Homo sapiens: one gene and its partners. The protein of the gene in region 4 interacts with the protein of the main gene of each other region in a pairwise test. Each region holds a gene or a part of one and is shown on either strand. Other genes may lie near its edges. The genes, in order: CAPN3, KLHL41, ANKRD1 and MYBPC1.

Evidence for each region.
Region 1: the proteins of MYBPC1 (region 4) and CAPN3 interact in a two-hybrid assay, tested with the Homo sapiens proteins (one large-scale study listed by BioGRID and IntAct).
Region 2: the proteins of MYBPC1 (region 4) and KLHL41 interact in a two-hybrid assay, tested with the Homo sapiens proteins (one large-scale study listed by BioGRID and IntAct).
Region 3: the proteins of MYBPC1 (region 4) and ANKRD1 interact in a two-hybrid assay, tested with the Homo sapiens proteins (one large-scale study listed by BioGRID and IntAct).

Annotation. Positions count from the first base shown.
Region 1 is NC_000015.10:42,357,445-42,362,753, reverse strand, and holds the start of CAPN3 (calpain-3), read right to left. Parts: upstream 3,254-5,309; 5' UTR 2,949-3,253; coding exon 2,640-2,948; intron 1-2,639. UniProt on the Homo sapiens protein: Calcium-regulated non-lysosomal thiol-protease. Proteolytically cleaves CTBP1 at 'His-409'. Mediates, with UTP25, the proteasome-independent degradation of p53/TP53.
Region 2 is NC_000002.12:169,519,360-169,523,993, forward strand, and holds part of KLHL41 (kelch-like protein 41), read left to right. Parts: intron 1-1,501; coding exon 1,502-1,648; intron 1,649-4,634. UniProt on the Homo sapiens protein: Involved in skeletal muscle development and differentiation. Regulates proliferation and differentiation of myoblasts and plays a role in myofibril assembly by promoting lateral fusion of adjacent thin fibrils into mature, wide myofibrils.
Region 3 is NC_000010.11:90,913,902-90,918,281, forward strand, and holds part of ANKRD1 (ankyrin repeat domain-containing protein 1), read right to left. Parts: intron 3,930-4,380; coding exon 3,831-3,929; intron 2,369-3,830; coding exon 2,270-2,368; intron 1,980-2,269; coding exon 1,881-1,979; intron 1,741-1,880; coding exon 1,642-1,740; intron 1-1,641. UniProt on the Homo sapiens protein: May play an important role in endothelial cell activation. May act as a nuclear transcription factor that negatively regulates the expression of cardiac genes. Induction seems to be correlated with apoptotic cell death in hepatoma cells.
Region 4 is NC_000012.12:101,600,983-101,605,616, reverse strand, and holds part of MYBPC1 (myosin-binding protein C, slow-type), read right to left. Parts: exon of another isoform or gene 4,597-4,634; intron 1-4,596. UniProt on the Homo sapiens protein: Thick filament-associated protein located in the crossbridge region of vertebrate striated muscle a bands. Slow skeletal protein that binds to both myosin and actin.

The DNA of each region.
Region 1 (5,309 bases), on a different chromosome or scaffold from region 4:
CAACTTGTGTGGCTGTAGATAAGTCATTTGCCCTTTCTGGGCCTTAATCACCTATAAAGCAAGGACACTGGAGCACCTCTCCAAGAATCATTCCAACTCTGACCATCTCTAATTTTATATTTCTCATTTATGCTAGTGAACCCAATGGGCAGTGTTCCTGTGATCTTAACCCCAGGGGAACATGTGGGCATTTTATCCAAGAGTGGCCTTTGTTATCTGGTCCTTTAGTGACTCAAACAGTGGAAAATCCAGGATCTTTGTTGTTGGTGATGGTGGTGGTGGGGGCACAATTTAGAACAGACAAGTCTTCTGCACCCCTCATTTCAAACATGGACACTGCCCAATCTAGTACCTAGAGCATAACAGGCCCTTAAAGAATTTTTATTAATTTGTAAGTCTCGCTTGAAGACTCAAGTCCACCAATGATTTCACTGAAAACAGTATTTGTAGGTTTTAATTTTCCCCATTCTGAGAAAGAGCTTTTATTTTTTTAAACTTTTTTTATAGAGATAGGGTCTCACTATGTTGCCCAGGCTGGTCTCCAACTCCTGAGCTCAATTGATGCTCCCACCTCTGCCTCCCAAAGTGCTAGGATTACAGGCATGAGCCTCCATGTCTGGCCCAAGAAAGGGCTTTTAGGAACTCCCTGCCTGGGAACGCAGGCCTATCCTGTCTCACTGGTCAAGGCCCTTGGGCGTGGGTTTTCACTCACCAGCATCAGCTGAGTACCCACTATGGGACTGGCCTGAGCTTGGTGAGGGGGCCTCAAAGATGAACAGGAAGGATTTCTGCTCTCAGTGAGAGGAAATCAGTCATGAGAAAGATTGAAGGAAGTGACACCTGAGCAGAGGTTCAGATAGGAACAAAAAAGGCATGTCAGGCAGACAGACAGCATGAGCAAAGGCCTCCGGTGTGAGAAGACTTGGAACTACAGAGCAGCTAAATGTCCAAGCACTGCTGGTGTGTCAGGATCTGGGGAAAGAGGATGGACATGGGCCTGGACAGGTAGGCAGGGACCAGCTGAGAAGGGCCTATGGCTTGGCTAAGGAGTTTGGACTTGTCCTGAAGGCAGTGGGGGCCGAGAGAGGGATGTCACTGAAGATATTTCAGCAGGGGGTTGTGACATGTCCAACTACTCTGATAGCAGAGTAGTGTTATCTTCTAAACTGAAGGCCTTCAGGACAGTTATGGGCCTTACCATAGAACCAAGAAGAGCCCCTATGGAATATACAGGGTTGTCTAGTACTCCACCTCAGGTTTGTTGTTGTTATTGTTGTTGTTTGAGACTGGGTCTCACTCCTGTCACCCAGCCTGGAGTGCAGTGGCATGATCTCGGCTCACTGCTGCCTCAACTCCCCGAGTTCAAGTGATCTTCCCACCTCAGCCTCTGAGTAGCTAGGACCACAGGCATGTGCCACCATGCCTGGATAATTTTTTGAATTTTTAGTACAAAAGAGATAGGTTTTCACCCTGTTGCCCAGGCTGGTCTCTAACTCTTGGGCTCAAGCAATCCTCCAGCCTGGGCCTTCCAAAATGCTGGGTTTATAGGCATGAGCCACCATGCCTGGCCCACCTTAGGTTAAAGAAAACCATGGCTAATCAATAGTATTGGGTCTCAGCTTGTCATCATTTCCTCAGAGAGGGTTTGTCTCCCTGGACCAGGTTAGCTCTCCTTGCCACATGATCCTGTGGCACCCAGAACATCGTCTCCTGACAATGTCACTCTTGTTCAATGCCCATCTTCCCTTCAGGACCCTAGGTTCCAAGACAGCTGGAATTTTGGTCTTTCTTACTCACTGCTGTCCCCCCAGTTGCTTGCCCAGTGCTGGCACTAGTAGATGCTCAATAAATATTTCTCGAATTAAGAACAAGAGTCACACTGGAGGGATGATCAGAGAGGTGAGCCAGGGGAATGTGATTTCCCTCCTGGCGATCACTGTAAATGAAACCCAGAGGCTGGGAGAGTTTCCTAAAACAGAAAGTTTTAATCCGGGCTCTGTCATGTGCCCACTAGATATATTTCACTCTAGTGTGCCTTGACTCCTCACTTATGAGGTGAGGTAGGTGGACAAAAGCGATTGCTAGGTCTCTCTCTCTTTAACCCCAACATTTTATGCATGAAAAAATATTCCTTGCCTATGACTCTTCTCTTTCTAGGGTTTCTGTGTTTCAGAAAGATATGGCCATTGGTAAATTAAAGAAGAATAACATCATGATTTTAGCCAGAGAAACTGAAATAATCTTACAAAGATGAATAATATTTAAAACGAACAGGTACATCTGGGCTGTCTGGAATTTGTTCTGAGAAAGGAATATTTATTTTTACAGGATGAATTAAACTGAGTTCCACCCACTTTTATAAAAAGCAAGATTTTTTTTTTTTTTTCAGAGAGAAAGAGCCAGAGCATAAGAATCAGCCCCACCTCCTGCGCTCTCCCTCTGGATTTTGCTGAGATTTGGTGAAATATCTGAGACCTGTTCCTCTCCTCCCTGCTTCACACTTAAAGACAGAGCCCAGCAGAGCTGCTGCCAGGATCCTTCCCCCAGTGCCCATGTGCACAGCTGAGCTGCCGGAGGTGCTGAGTGAGAGGACTCCTCCGTGGGGGGAAAACCCAGCCAGCAAGCAGGAAGCTACTCACCGGAGGTCTCTTCCAGACGAACTGGATGGGGAACTTCTGGCTATAAAAGAGAGAGGTCTCATCCGGTGGGAACTCAGGGTCCACATAAAGAACTTTCTTTTCTAGACATTTCTTGTGAAGTTGCTCGAATGTCTTCTCTTTCACTCCGATAATAGGAAAATTGCGGCTGATGATGGCTGAATAGATGCCACTTGGGTTTCCACCCCCAGCCTCAGTGGCCTTGCTCTGGGCCGGGTGAGGAACTGGCCCTGGGGACCGGGGCTCAGCCGCTGTCCTTGGAGCCACAGATGCGCTAATGACGGTCGGCATGGCAAGTGGCTTTGGAAGAAAAAGCTTTTTAAAGAAAATAAGATACAGCTACCTTCAAGGAAAGGAAGCAACTGCAAAGGGGAAGTTGGAGTAATTCTGTCATCTGAGAGAAAAGTGTCCACATCCAGTTCAAAGTTGAAAGCCCATCAGAAGGTCGTACAGGTTATGTCCATCTTAAAAACCGAGCTGTGATTCTGAAGCCATAAGTTCTCCTGAGAAATGAGTGCTAAAGGATTTCTGAAGCAATGTTGACTTGGGGGTCTCCTACCAGCAGCATGCATGCCAGAGGGAGAGAGAAAGAGAGTGAGGGTTGTGTTTCAGTGGCCTGAAGATGCTTGAGCCAGGAAAACTAAAAATAGATGTGAAGAAACACTGTGAGTATGAGAGCAAGAGAGACTGCATGGTAGAGAGAGAACCTGGCTAGGGACATTTCTGTTGCCATGAAGTGCTGGTGTTGCCAGAAAATGAAAAGGGAGTATCTGAGTAAGGTGAACACTGGAAAGAAGCTGAGAACTGCTGACATGTTATTGAGTAGGCAGTTATACAGACCACCCAACTACTGGCCATCAAATGAATGGAAAACAATATTGCAAAAAAGCTAGTTAGGGTGAACGGGAGGTACTGAATTCTACAAAAATATTCTGTGAATTTTAGAGAACATGATTTTTAGTCCTAAAATTTTAGGATATCAGAACATTATTCAATGTTAGATTTGGTATCTTTTTTAGAATGTTCTTGGGTCAGCGCTCATTGGAAATGTCTGCATGGAAAATGCTACTCAGCAGAGTCCTCATTTGAGAAAATCCCTGTCTCTACCTGCACACTTGACCTTGCCACCTCTTGTCTCTCCCCATCCACAAAATGAACACTGGGACTGAATCTGCTAAAAAGTGGTCCTGCTGGGCCATGTGGCTCACGTCTCTAATCTCTGCACTTTGGGAGGCCGAGGCGGGTGGATCACATGAGGTCAGGAGTTCGAGACCAGCATGGCCAACAATAGTGAAACCCTGTCTCTACTAAAAATACAAAAATAAGCCGGGTGTGGCGGCGGGTGCCTGTAATCCCAGCTACTTGGGAGGCTGAGACAGAAGAATTGCTTGAACCCAGGAGGCAGAGGTTGTAGTGAACCCAGATCACGCCACTGCACTCCAGCCCAGGTGACAGAAAGAGACTCCGTCTTAAAAAAAAAAAAAAGTGCACCTGAGCAGAGAAAATCCTCACTTAACATCATCGATAGGTTCTCGTAAGCTGTGACTTTAAGCAAAATGATGTACTGTATAGTGAAACCAGGCTAACTGATATAAACAAGAGTTAAGTCCCTACAGCACACGGTATGTTTTCGTTAAAGTCACAGTTTACAAGCACCTATCAATGATGTTAAGTGAGGACTTACTGTACAGGTTATATGTTGACTCATTCAGCCATGCCACATTAGGCATCTGAGACAGAAGTTGGAATTAGATACTGAACCAGACTGTCTGTCAACTCCTGGGATGTCACACCTGGTTTCAGGGCTCTTAGATGAGAGCATAAGTGGCTCTGGGGAAGGGAAGTGCCTGCCTGGCCTCCACCTTGTCTTCTACCCACAATAGCTGCTCCCTGGGCTGTAAGGAGATGAGCACATTTCAAGTATGGCAGAGTGGAGGCATGTCCTAGGCTGCAGTCATGCCTGTTCCCATGCGACCAGTCTCAATAATCCAAGATTAGAGGCTATGGAAGAAGGTGGGAAGTGACAGGTAAAATAGGGAGTACTATCAGCCTCCTGATCCCTGGGATTGCGGCTTTGAAGGACTCTATGTCTGGGCTTGCAGGAACCATCAGCCTAGCCATCTGTCCCTCCAAGAAAATGCCCAGGGCTTTTTACTAGTCTTGGAGAGGCAGAATAGAGGACAGTGGTCTCTGGTGACTGACCACCTCGGTTCAAAGTCTAGGTTGGCCCCTTATTGGCTGTGCCTGTGTAACTTTAGGTGAGTTATTTCTTCCTTTCTGTCTCAGATTTCTCACCTATAAAATAGGTACAATTACAGTCATTCTGTTATTAGGTTTTGGTAACAATTAAATAATTTATGTAATACATTTTACACAGTGCCAGGATTTTCTTAAGCACTCAATAAATGGTGTTGTTAGAGAAGACCTGAATTTAATATTACTTTGGAGTTAGATCAGGTCGAATGCTACATTTACTCGCTGACGCAAATCAGCATCCACTCAATGGGCATTAACTGAATATCTGCTATGTGGACAGCACAGGAATAGGTATAATCTGCCCAGGCTCATGTGGTATGCAGCATCTCCAATCAGAAGCTGGCCTATCTGCCTGCAACAAAAAGACTGACTTCCACCCTCAAAGTCACCAGTGGC
Region 2 (4,634 bases), on a different chromosome or scaffold from region 4:
CTGAAAATTACAAGGAACTTTTGTGGAACACTATTTAAATTATCATTAAAAATAATGTTTTCGAAGACTGTAATGTGGGTAAACACTCATGATGTAAGTTAAGAAGCAACACACAAAAATTGTAAATATCTTCTTAGTTTCATTTATATGTATGGAAGCTTAAATGTACATGCTTTTTAAAAAGATGACAAAATTACACCAAATTGTTGCTTGTGATTATGTCTGTAAGGTATGATTATGGAGATATCTGCTCTCTTGTATACCTTTCTGTACTTTCCAGATTTTCTCAAACTTTTTTTTTTTTTTTTTGAGACAGGGTCTCACTGTGTCACACAGGCTGGAGTACAGATTTTCTATAATGTACATATATTATTTTTATAATTAGAAAAAAATCGGCTAATTTTTTGTATTTTTAGTAGAGATGGGGTTTCACCATGTTGGTCAGGCTGGTCTCGAACTCCTTACCTCAGGTGATCCACCCACCTAGGCCTGCCAAAGTGCTAGGATTACAGGCATGAGCCACCGTGCCCGGCCTTAGGGTTGCCATATTGAAGGCTTTATATTTAATGAAGTTACATCTTTCAAATATTTTCTAGTAGCAAACTTAGTCATTTACTTTTAGATGCCTGTGCTCCTTGAATTTTTTTTTCCCCCCTTAAAGACAGGGTTTTGCTCTATCACCCAGGCTGGAATGCAGCAATGCGATCATAGCTCACCGCAGCCTTGACCTCAAGGGCTCAAGAGATCCTCCCAAGTAGCTGGGACTATAGGGACATACCACCAGGCCTAGCTCTGTGTGTGTGTGTGTGTGTGTGTGTGTGTGTGTGTGTGTGTGTGTGTGTGTGTGTGTAGACAGTCCATTTTGTTGCCCAGGCTGGTCTCATACTCCTTGGGCTCAAGCTATCCTCCTGCCTCAGTGTGTGTGTGTGTGTGTGTGTGTGTGTGTGTGTGTATGTGTGTGTGTGTGTGTGGAGGCAGTCCATTTTGTTGCCCAGGCTGGTCGCATACTCCTTGGGCTCAAGCAATCCTCCTGCCTCAGTCTCCCAAAGTGCTGGGATTACGGGCATGAGCCACCGAACCCAGCCGCTACTTGAATATTTATTTTTTATTTAGATGGAGTCTCGCTCTGTTGCCCAGGCTGGAGTACAGTTGCACAATCTCAGCTCACTGCAACCTCCGCCTCCCAGGTTCAAGTGATTCTCCTGCCACAGCCTCCCAAATAGCTGAAATTACAAGTGCGCGCCACCGTGCCTGGCTAATTTTTTGTATTTTTGGTAGAGGTGGGGTTTCACCATGTTGGTCAGGCTGGTCTCAAACTCCTGACCTCAGGTGATCTACCCGTCTCAGCCTCCCAAAGTGCTGGGATTACCGGCATGAGCCACCGCGCCTGGCTGCCTGGCCACTACTTGAATTTTTAAATTATTATTTCCTATAATTATTCAGTAAGTACATCTGGCATTTCTTTAAGTTTTACATTGACTATATTTTTAATGATACCTAGATGGGATGTAATGACCGAATTTCCCCAAGAAAGAAGCTCCATCAGTTTGGTCAGCCTGGCTGGATCTCTGTATGCAATTGGTGGTTTTGCTATGATTCAACTGGAGTCTAAAGAATTTGCACCCACTGAAGTCAATGACATATGGAAGTAAGTTCTCATCACTTCAATTTTCAGAATCACATATTAAATCAGATGACTGATAAACTATTTTGTAGTAAACAATAAGCCAGATTTTCCCAACATGCAAGCTACTTCTTGGTAGTAGACTAAACACTTCAAACCTAATTGAACTTCTGTACATGCCACTTACTTGAACAAGTATCTACTTCTAGTTAGCTCTGAGCCTGAGAAAGAAATCATCTGGGCAGGCCTGTTTCTTACTGTAAAATGAGAGTTGGACCTTTGATACTCTCAGTTTCATTCCAGCTCTAAGAGTATAATGCTATAGGCATCCAGTAGAGTGAAAGCCTCTTTGCTCCAGAGTAGTTTATTTCCTAACAAAACAGAGTTCTAAAAAAAATTTTATGTTTTTTACTTTTTTATTTTTATTTTTTTGAGACAGAGTTTCTGTCACCCAGGCTGGAGTACAATGGCGGGATCTCAGCTCACTGCAACCTCGGCCTCCCAGGTTCAAGTGATTCTCCTGCCTCAGCCTCCCGAGTAGCTGGGATTACAGGCATATCCACCACGCCCAGCTAATTTTTATATTTTTAGTAGAGACGGCATTTCGCCATGTTGGCCAGGCTGGTCTCGAACTCCTGACCTCAGGTGATCCACCCGCCTCAATCTCCCAAAGTGCTAGGATTACAGGCGTGAGCCACGTACCCAGCCTAAAGAAACATTTAACCTCTTGAGCTTTCCACTACTTCATTAGTTCTGTTTTCAATCTAATTTAAACAGCTTTCCAATTGTTTTAGGCTTCAGCTAATAAATGCTTTTTTAAAATGAAAAAAGTCAAAATAGCAATCCATTTTACCTGCCTGGAGGTGCCAGGCAGTTCTCCTAAGTATGACACTTGAAACTGTTACTCAATTGAACATTTTAGTGAGGCTATTAAAAAAAAAGTTTGTTTTTATTTTATTTTGAACTGAGATCGCGCCACTGCACTCCAGCCTCAGCTACAGAGCGAGTCTTAAAAGAAAAAAAAAAAAAGAAAAAAGAAACACAGAATCCCAGACCCTACTGAATGAGAATCTGTATTTTTTAACAAGATTCTTAGGTGAATTGTTTGCACATTTAAGTTTATAAGTACAGCTTTGGAAGAGTGCCATTTATACTTAATCAGTGAAGGCATACCACTAAGCCTGAGAGTGAAAAGTGGGTATTATTTGTTCTATACCTTAACCAGCAGATGCTTTATTCCCAGATGCTGAACTAAAAAGGCTGAAAAGCTGGTACCTTAACCAAACAATGATTTGTGCATTAGACATCATTTCCCCATGTTGTAATATTAACTAGCTGTGTAGAGGGCAAGAAAAAAAGTGGCTATGCAAGGAAATTAACTACTTTCCCTCCTCCCCCCAAAAAAGAGGGAGAAAGAGAAAAAAAATGAGATTTCCACGGAGCAAAGAGGCTAGAATTAGCAAAACAGTGAGATGGGGAAAAGCTGGAAGCAGTAGGAAAAAAGGATGAACTAATGAAGGCCGGGAAGGTTAGGGTTTTTTGGAAAACAGGGCCAGGTACCAAATATATAAATGGGCAGTGATTCTCAACCCTAGCTGTATGTTACAATCATCTGGGATGCTTTTAAAATATACCAGTGTCTGGGCCTTAACACAGACCAATTATATCAAAATTTCTGGAGGTAGAGTTGAGCATCCCTAGTTCCTAAAACCTTCCCAGTGATTTTTTTTTTTTTTTTTTTTTTTTTTTTTTTTGGTGAGACAGAGTCTCACTCTGTCACCCAGGCTGTAGTGCAGTGATGTGATCTTGGCTCATTGCAACCTCCAGCTCCTGGGTTCAAGCGATTCTCCTGCCTCAGGCTCTGGAGCAGCTGGGACTACAGGTGTGCACCACCATGCCCGGCTAATTTTTGTATTTTTAGTAGAGATGGGGTTTCACCATATTGGCCAGGCTGGTCTTGAACTCCTGACCTCAGGTGATCCACCCACCTCAGCCTCCCACAGTGCTGGGATTACAGGCGTCAGCCACCGAGCCCAGCCCCAGATGATTCTAATCAGCAGCCAGGGTTGAGAAACACTGATATTAAGTAATTGTGCTGTCAATCAGTGGGACCTCCCTGAAGCCCTCCTGGTTCCTAAGGGTTATCAAAAGCCATGCTGCCCCTGCAGGGAACAGTTACAGGCAGCAAAAGAAAGTACAGAATCTCCTGCTATAAAAGTGGCCCTGACATTGTTTAGGGAACCTAAAAGAGGGATCCTCTCTGATTGTGGTTTATTTTGCGATTAGAGCAGTGGTTCCCAAAGTTGCCTGCACGTTCGAATCACCAGGGTGCTTCAAAAAATATTAACACCTCTATCCCACTTATATTGACTGCAATTTAATTGGTCTGAAGTATGGCCTGGGCTTTGGAAATTTTAAAAGATCCATGGATGTTTCTATATGTGTAGACAAGTTTGGGAACCACTGGATTGGGTAAAGAGAAGAGGGGGGCATTCATCACTATCTGCTTGGCTATTTTGAGACTGGTATTTCCTAATTTGGGGTAGGATCTGGAGCATGATTCTCAAACTTTGCTGCATATTAGAAACACTTGGGGAGCTTTAAAAAATCCTGATGCCCAGGCCACCCTTCATACCAATTAACTCAATCTCTGAGAGTAGGACCTAGGCATCAGTATCTTTAACATCTCCAGCTGGTTCTATTGGCAATTAAGTTTGAGAACCTGTAATCTACTACAGTGGTTCCCAAAGCAGCATCAGCCTCACCTGGGTACTTATCAGAAAGGCAGATTCTCAGGTCTCACTTCAAATCTGTTAAATTAGAAACTCTGGGGGTGATAGGGCCAGCGATCTGTGTTTGCACAAACCCTCCAGGTGACTTAGATGTGTGTTAAAGTTGAAGGCCGCCGATCTAGAGAAACGTGGCTGCCTATTTGCCCTCAATTTCCTAGTGAACCTCCCTAACCACACATGCAGAGGTGAAAACTCTCAGTATACAACATTCTCAACAT
Region 3 (4,380 bases), on a different chromosome or scaffold from region 4:
CAACATAGACTGGGTTGGGGAAGGGCCACCTTTAAAAGAGTTATGTGCACAGACCCTGACAGCCACACATTGAAGTCACTTAGGCCATCTGCCCGGCACAGTGAGGTCAGTCTGCAGTCAGATTATGAGATCTGTAGGTATTTAAATTAGTGGCCCTATAACCTTCATTTTGGAACTTCCCCACCTCTGTAGTGTCTTTCTCTAGGAACAATCATCAGTAGACATGAATATACAGTTTTGGATAATGAGAAAATATTGTATGCTGCTCCCAATCTCCTTAAGATGGCATCAATAGGTTATTGATCTTTGGGGGAAACATCAATCCATTGGGTCAATGACATTAATAGTTCCATAAACCTGATGCTAATATCTAACTGATAATTCAGAACCCTAAGCCGTATTTGTATATTTTGGGCTACTCTTCCATAAATTCCTTGCACTTCTCTCCATTGAAATTTATATTGTGATTTTTCTGGCTACTTACACAGTCTCCCTAAACCTGTATGCTATTTGTCTCTGCTGGTAGTGTCTCACTGCCTGAAAAAAAATCTTCACATTTTCTGCAGCTTTCAAGATTTCATTTAACCTGCTCTTTTTCTGATAGTTTAAAAAAATATTAGATAGGATCAATTCCAATATCTAGACTGAGGAAGCCCTACTGTTAACACTTTCCCATCCCAAGCAATCTTCATTTATCACCATTCTTTGATCCTGTCACCAAGCCAGATTTGTTTTAAAAGATAAGATATTCCTCTCAGTCTTTGCAACACAAATAAGGGGAGAAAATTATTTGCATTTATATGATGACTGAGTTTCCCTCCCCCCCCCCCCACTCTTTTTTGTAAAGTGATTCTTCAAAAGCTTCTTTAAAATTATTTCTTCAGAAATTTATACCTGTTCCTCTGGGCAATATTTTTTAAGCTTATATTAGATGGTGTTTGTCTGGAAATTGAGACCATGAGGAAAAGTTGGTTATGTTCCCTGCTTACAGATGAAGTTAAATTAATATGTACTTATACAAGAATTTTCAGGGCCTAAATATAGGAAATTATTTTGAGAGATGTGAAGACAAATCCAAGTGGAGAATGGATAGAAATTATCTGAAAAAAAATACAGGCAAAAGCACAGCTACCCCTGGAAGAAAATGGTGACATTTCACATTGCTGTAAGGAGGAAAGGGACTTTCTGAATTACTCAGATTGGATATTGATTAACCTTAGTTCACTGGCTGCACTGACCCTTGTGGAATTTTAGGACATTTTGGAAATGGTGGATGCCTTTATTTCTAACTTCCTCAGCCCTTGCACAGACAGAAATGGCCAAAGCAGATTGGACTTCTAGGTGTTTGTGGGGATGAGCAAATTTTGACTATCTTTCATTTCCAAGACCAAATTGTAAAAGAATTACTATGCACTGTATCAGGCACTGAGGTCATAGCAGTATCTATGACTTCCCTCATCTCTGGCCATGTGAACTGGGTCCTAGCCAAGATAAACACTGTCCTTGGGGAAATGGGCAGGGGCATTTAGACCATCGAAGACCCCTCAAATACTGCCATTGTGGGAGTCGTTTCACCTATTTAAGAAATGCTCCTGGAAATTGGAAAGCTTGCAAGCGGTGTTTCTTGTTTCCAGTACTTACACAGTTCTTGATGTTGAGATCCGCGCCATACATAATCAGGAGTCGGATCATCTTATAGCGGTTCAGTCTCACCGCATCATGCAACGGGGTATCTCCTTCCTAGAGAAGCAGAGTCAACAGGTTCAAGGTGGGTCTGAGGCCAGGAAGTGGGTCCTGCAAGGGCACCCAGGCTTGGGGGAGTGATTCCAAATACAAAAGCAATGAAGCTTTGGGAAACCCGAGCGTGTCCAGCTACTCACTCTGTCTTTGGCGTTGAGGTCTGCCTCACAGGCGATAAGATGCTCCGCGCACTCATAGTGGCCAGTCCTCACCGCCACATGCAGCGCTGTGCTGAGCAACTGGAAAATTGGAAAACGCTGCTGATTCGCTAGGAATGAGGACAGAGGCTGTCCCAGACCCCAAGACATGTGCGAGGGGGAGAAGTGGTCACTAGGGTGCCTGCACACAGCATGGGCCTCCAGATGACTTTAATGGAGAGGCGAGGTTAGGAGATGGAGGGGTGGGGGAGGAGGGAAGGGCGGGTGGGGGAGAAGGAGGAGGGGGAGGGGGAAGAGTGGGAGAAGTGGAGAAGGATGGGGGACAGGGAGGGGGAGGGGGTGAATGAAGGGAGAAGGAGAAGAAGGAATACCTTATCTCGGGCGCTAATTTTTGCTCCTTTATTCAGCAACAATTTTAAAACATCCAGGTTTCCTCCACGGCTTGCCCAGTGGATGGCTGTGGATTCAAGCTATACCGGGAGGGAAGACCCGACAATGTGAAGGAGAATGTGGTCTGGGGAATTAGAACCTGGTTGCTAGGGCATCCGTGAAAATAATGAGTTGTCCCCATCTAGATTGACAATTCTAACTGGAGTCGAAGGTTCTTACCAAATGTGTTAGCTAAATTACATGTGTGTGTGTGTGTGTGTGCATATGTGTGTCTTATTAGGAGGCTCTTAATAAATCTAATAATGTTTTAAAAGAATAAGAATGGCCACTTATTGAGACATTTCTCATGCCAACATGGTGCTACACTTTAGACACCTTGATTCTTCCAGCAACATTTTGAGGTAGGTGTTGCTATGCACATTTTGCAGATAAGAAAAACCAGGTTCCAAAAAGTTCAAGTTTCTAGCCCAAGGAAACACAACTAATAAGAGGCAGAATACACAGTCAAACTCCCCTCTGCCTGGAACTTCTAACTTCTTTTGTCAAATGTACACAAAAGTTCTAAACACATGTATTTAAAAATTTTGGCAGAATAAAAGTAGTCCCTTCCAAAATATTTTAATCTGGATCTGACACCTCATCTAGGGTCCCTGTCGCTCTTTCTCTACTTCTGTGGGTTTTCTGCTCATTTTTGCTAGCACAGCCTCTGTACCTCAACTGTAGTCACTTGTGTCTACAGTTGTAACGTGTATAGTTACCCCTAGGAGACCCTCTCCTCACTGATCTATGTGGTTGGTATGCCCCTGGCCTTAATCCCACACTCATGATTTTTAGTTTCCATGCAAACTTCATATTTTGTTTCTTGATTTTTTTTTCAATGTGTTTATGTTTTGGATTCAATTTTGGCCAAGTCCCTTGGATTTCTTTGATATCCCGTTGCCGCTTTGCTATAAAGTCAAAATGAGCTGCATTTAAATACATAAAGAATTTTCCCAGCTCAATCTTCAGTTCATAAATTATGCTGCATACTGGTCTTCGTAGAAATCACAGTGATTGAATTATTGAGGTCTGAATAGCAGCTACTTTCCATAGATGCAATTCATTTCATATGCAGTCTAGCCCCAAATCTCATTGGTAGCAATTGGCATCTATCATATAAAGTGTGCAGCTAGAGAATTCGTATATGTTGCTGGCAGCCAACCATAAGCAGGCTGCCCTGTGAACAATGGAGGGACAAGGCTGTTGAAAGGCAAGTGTCGAAAATGAATGACTAACTCGCTGATGAGGATATTGAATTCAGTTTAACAGCTTTCACTTCCTTCTTTTCCCTGAAATATTCCTCTATTTTCAGTATGTATGGAAAATATTTTCACATGACCTACTCTCATCTCCCAACTTTCCTTTATTTGGAGAAATGAGCTTTTGCCTAGTTCTCTCAGATCAATTTTCAATCCAATCAGCTCGGTTTTGCATTGGAGGTTTTCCGGAGCTTCATATAGTCTACTTCTTTTGGCTCATTCCCAAGCAAAGAAATATATTTACCATATCACGGAATTCGATCTGGGCTCCAGCTTCCATTAACTTCTCCACAATTGCCAAATGTCCTTCCAAGCATGCTCTATGAAGAGCTGTCCGTTTATACTATCAGAACAGAGATTTTAAACAGAGATAGCAATAAATATAAAAATGTGTGTAAACCCTTTTAAGAGCTATGAAGCTGGAGATTCTGATGACCTAACTGATAGAAACTCAAGTGCTTCTTTATGAATAGAAATGTCAAAGTTAACTAAAATTGCAGAATCAGAACAATTATCCTGCAACTAATATTTGAGCTTCCTCCAATATACATTTCCAAGGGCTCAAAGGCCTACGTTGAGGAGTGTGAACTTAAAGGCTCAAAACTATCTAAATGCTGACATCTCCGTTTCTTCTATCTTGCACCTTCCTTGTTCATGTAGCATTACCATGCAGATCAGACAGCTTTCTTGCATCTGGGACTGTTGCTAGACTATCAAAAAGTTTCCATTCATTTTTAGGAGAATGGGAGACATGTTTTTAGTTCAACTTCAGAAGCGGTCCCCAATTTCACTTC
Region 4 (4,634 bases):
AGTGCTGAGTTTATAGGCATGAGCCACCATGCCCAACCAATTTTAATTTTTAATTCAGTAAATATATGACACACTAATACAATATTTACTGTATTCCAAATTAAAGTTAGTGTGTATAATACACTAGTTATGCACATAAACAAATGATCTTTAGTTTATTCAATAATTGTTAAGGGTGCAAAGGGATCTGAGACCAAAAGGTTTGAACCACTGGTTTTGAATTTATTGCAAATCTCTTTGGAAAAAGATTTTGTGCATGTTATTTTTAAAACAAACTCAGGTCATATATATCATATACATCTGCAGCTTTGATAAAATGAATGAATCAGTCAAAATAAAAACCTTACATTGATTTTGAAGCAATAACTCATTTTCCTAAGTGCACCATAATAGAGACAAAAGGGCAATAGTGTCTAGTAACACCTACCCTATGCAGAATTCAGCTATCTAGCAACTTACCTAACAGCTTCTGACCACCCAAATAAAAGGGCCTCTGAAGGGCCTCTGCATTTATCTCAAGCTCCTACGTTCCAGGCACTAAGAGTTTCTGTGTTTTCCTCATGGAAGAAGGCCCTAGCTCCTCAGTAAACCCAGGGCCTGGGACTTGGGAAAGGTAAGCAGGGTGCCTGAGGAGCAAAATTTAAGGAGGTCACTTAAGGGGCTGAACCTGCATTTTGGTGACCCAGAAAGTCAGTGCCTTCTTAAATGTTGTGCCTTAGGTGGTGCTAAACTCTACTCAGCCAGATTAATTACCTGGAATGGCGTCTATAATAAAGGACAAAGGGGAGTGAGGGGAACAGTTTCATATGCTGACTGACAAGAGTACTAAAGAAGACAGCACACTTCTAGGAGGGATAAAGTAGGAAAGCTAAGAAAAATTGGAAAGAAATTCAAAATACAAATCAATATGAGTCCATTTTTCAAAAGAGCAAATAATTTGGGCCCTCAGGGTGTCACATGCTACTAATAACTGATATCTATAATTTAAGACAAATTATATCCACTGTACTTTATTTTTTAAAGCAAGGAGTAATATATTACATTTTAAGAATGTTTCTATTCAAACTGGTGGAAAAAATAAGGCTCTGAGGTTATATAACAAAATTAACCTTTAGCTGTGCAGAGAATCCAGCTATTCAGAATGATTCAATCAATTTAATCCATATTTATTTACTATGGTCGAATGTTGCCAAAGACTGTACTGTACTCTAATGTTCTGAATAGATGAAGTCTAATTGTACCTTGATCATGTAAATATTCAATGACTCATTATTCAACCTTTGGAATTTCCCTGAATCTACAGGGTTTTTTTTCCTCCCCTAGTCAATTCATTCTTTTGTCCTTCTAATTATGCAAGTTTCATCTCAGGATGTCATTTCACACAGGAAGAGGATTAAAATATGGTCCTTATTACATAGCAACAAATAGCTTCTCATTGTTAACATGGGGCTGGGGGAAAATTGCTAAGATCTGAGGACTTGCCTTCCTCACTACTCTTACCATGTTTTAAAGAATCAAATGGGGTGTGTTTTGCAGGGGAAGATTTACTCAGATTGAAGGAGCTTAAAATTTTAGCATAGGTCAAAAAGAAATTATTGCAAAAGCAATTTGAATTGTTAACAGTTTCCTCCTTTACTGTGTCTTTTTTGGGGATCTTGAATCAGTTATTATTGTTATTATTATTTTGAGACAGAGTCTCACTCTGCCACCCAGGCAGGAGTGCAGTGGCATGATCATGGCTCATTGCAGCCTCCTGGGCTCAAGTGAATCTCCTGCTTCAGCCTCCCAAGTAGCTGGGACTACAGGTGTACACCACCACATCCAGATAATTTTTGTATTTTTTCATGCTGTTTCACCATGTTGCTTGGGCTGGTCTCAAACCCCTGGGCTTAAGCAATTCTCTGGCCTTGGCCTCCCAAAATGCTGGGATTACAGGCATGAGCCATTGTACCTGATCTTGTATCACTTATTTATGTGGCTATAGGGTTATAGGATAAATTTCTTAAAGGCCTTGCTCCAAACTGTTGCTGGACCTCACATTGGGTGACTTTTTAAAAATAGAGGAAGAAGAGTCCTGACGCCAGGTGGGGTCATAAAAATAAAATTCCACCGCAATAAACACAGTGACACTCAATCAATCACCCACCACATCCATATGTGGTCATGGAGAGTTCTTTATGTGGTCATCTCAGGAAAGCGCAGACTGAGGAAGACCCTATCCACCAAAAAGCACCCCTGATAAGAGAGAGAAATCTTCTTTTTTTTTTTTTTGAGACGGAGTTTCACTCTTGTTGCCCAGGTTGGAGTGCAATGGCGCGATCTTGGCTCACCACAACCTCCGTTCTCCCAGGTTCAAGTGATTCTCCTGCCTCAGCCTCCTGAGTAGCTGGGATTACAGGCATGCGCCACCATGCCCTGCTAATTTTGTATTTTTAGTAGAGATGGGGTTTTTCCATGTTGGTCAGGCTGGTCTCAAACTCCCGACCTCAGGTGATCCTCCCACCTCAGCCTCCCAAAGTGCTGGGATTATAGGCATGAGCCACCACGCCTGGCCAGGGAGAGAAATTGTAAAGTCCCACAAACCCAAGACTTATAACCCTTGGAGACAGACATAGATATTGTTCAACTCTGTAGGGTAACTCTTTCATCTAAGTGGGAAAGGCCATGTCCCCACAAGAACAGTGAAGAAACAACCCAACCGTTATCACCTTATGCTGACAACTACAGACCCCCGAATTGGACATGGCTCATTTCAGTAAGAACACAACAGAGGTCATGGAGTATAGACCTTTTATTTGATCTGAGCTTCTATGGGTGAAAGCGAAGATGTATCACCACAAGTAAAAGAAGGAAATATAGTGGTGGGAATGATGGTTATGACTATCATAGCAGCTTTCTTGGCGTGTATTATAAATATTACACTAGTGAGGAGGTGAGCAGTGGTTGTTACATCCCTTATGTTGAGGGAAATGCCATCAGTTTATGTGAAATATGAGGCATTTAATACCTTGTGCCAGACAAGATTTCTGAGTTTACTGCTTTAGGAGGAAAATGCTTGAAATCTTTCCATATGTTAGGCCCTGTTCTAAGCACTTTACCTGTCCGGGCATGGTGGCTCATGCCTGTAATCCCAGCACTTTGGGAGGCCGAGGCAGGTGGATCACTTGAGGTCAGGAGTTTGAGACCAGCCTGGCCAATATGTTGAAACCCTATCTCTACCAAAAAAATACAAAAATTAGCTGGGCGTGGTGGCGCATGCCTGTAACCCCAGCTACTCAGGAGGCTGAGGTAGGAGAATTGCTTGAACCAGGGAGGTGAAGGTTGCAGTGAGCCGAGATCATGCCACTGCACTCTGACCTGGGCGACAGAGCAAGACTCCATCTCAAATAAAAAATAAAATAAGATAAAATAAGCACTTTACCTGGTGTATTTCAGTTAATTCTTACTGAGACCCAAAGAGTTGATACTGTTTTATTCACATACAGATGAGGAAACAGAGGCATACAAAGTGTAAGTAATTCAGTCTATGGTGCAGCTGGAATTTGAGCTGTCTAGAATGTTCTACAAATAGTATAATTTTTTTTATGTCACCATGTTTAATAATGCATAATATTTAAGATGCATAAAGAAAAAGCCAAGACACATACTGTGTGCATAACAACCCTAAAGACATCTAACTCTAAACATGACAAAATGTAGAATTAAAAAGGACACATTTTGAGTTTTAAGTAGAGCATTCTGTTCCAAGATTCATTAAAATTTTTAGAAGGCAAACGATATCACCAGATGCAAGCAAAGCAATTTATAAAGAGTATTTAGGAAAGATTTGGACAATTTTAGAGAAGAAGAATACTTACCAAAATAGCTAAATACACATCAAAAAAAAAGAATAGAACAAAATCATAAGATCTAACATTTGACATATTATTAAATGTAATTTTAGACGCTGCCCTGATGTGCCAAATTGGCCTAAAAAGGATTCCTAAGGGAGTATAAAAGGGCAAGTCTTATCAAAGTGGATTTAGACTTGAAAGGCATAATGAAAGTCAGATTACAGTTAGCTTTTTGTGAACTCATTATAGAAAGAGAAATAAGTGTGAGATTGAATGATTCTGGTCTCCGCCTCTGCCAAATCAATCAATTCATGCCCCAATCTGATGGGACCTAAAAGTTTACTCTGAAAATGTACGTTAAAGCCCATAAATACTCTGTCCCATGAATGGGAACATCTTGAAATTTGGCCTGTGGTCCATCTTTGGGCTGTCTAAAACAAACATACTCTTTGTAAATTAAAACTGAGCCTATCCACACAGAGCAGAATTACGACAAGACAGTATGATCACTTTGACTTTGGGGGGGCTGTCTTTGTAAAAAGCTGCAAGGACAGAAGCCCTCTTCTTATCCAGTTATGAGATAATTTGCATACATGTAGAAAATTAAGTGACAAAGTCTTTTCTTCTTTTTCACAGTTTGGCTTTCCTTAACTGGTATGCTCTCAAATTTTAGGAAACCCCTCATGAATAAACAGTAGCTACTTCATGATTAACCTAACTCAGAACACTAATTCAGCTACTACCTTTCTGTGTATTTATTCAGTTTCCCCAGGATGCAGTACTTTGAACAAACCATGGATT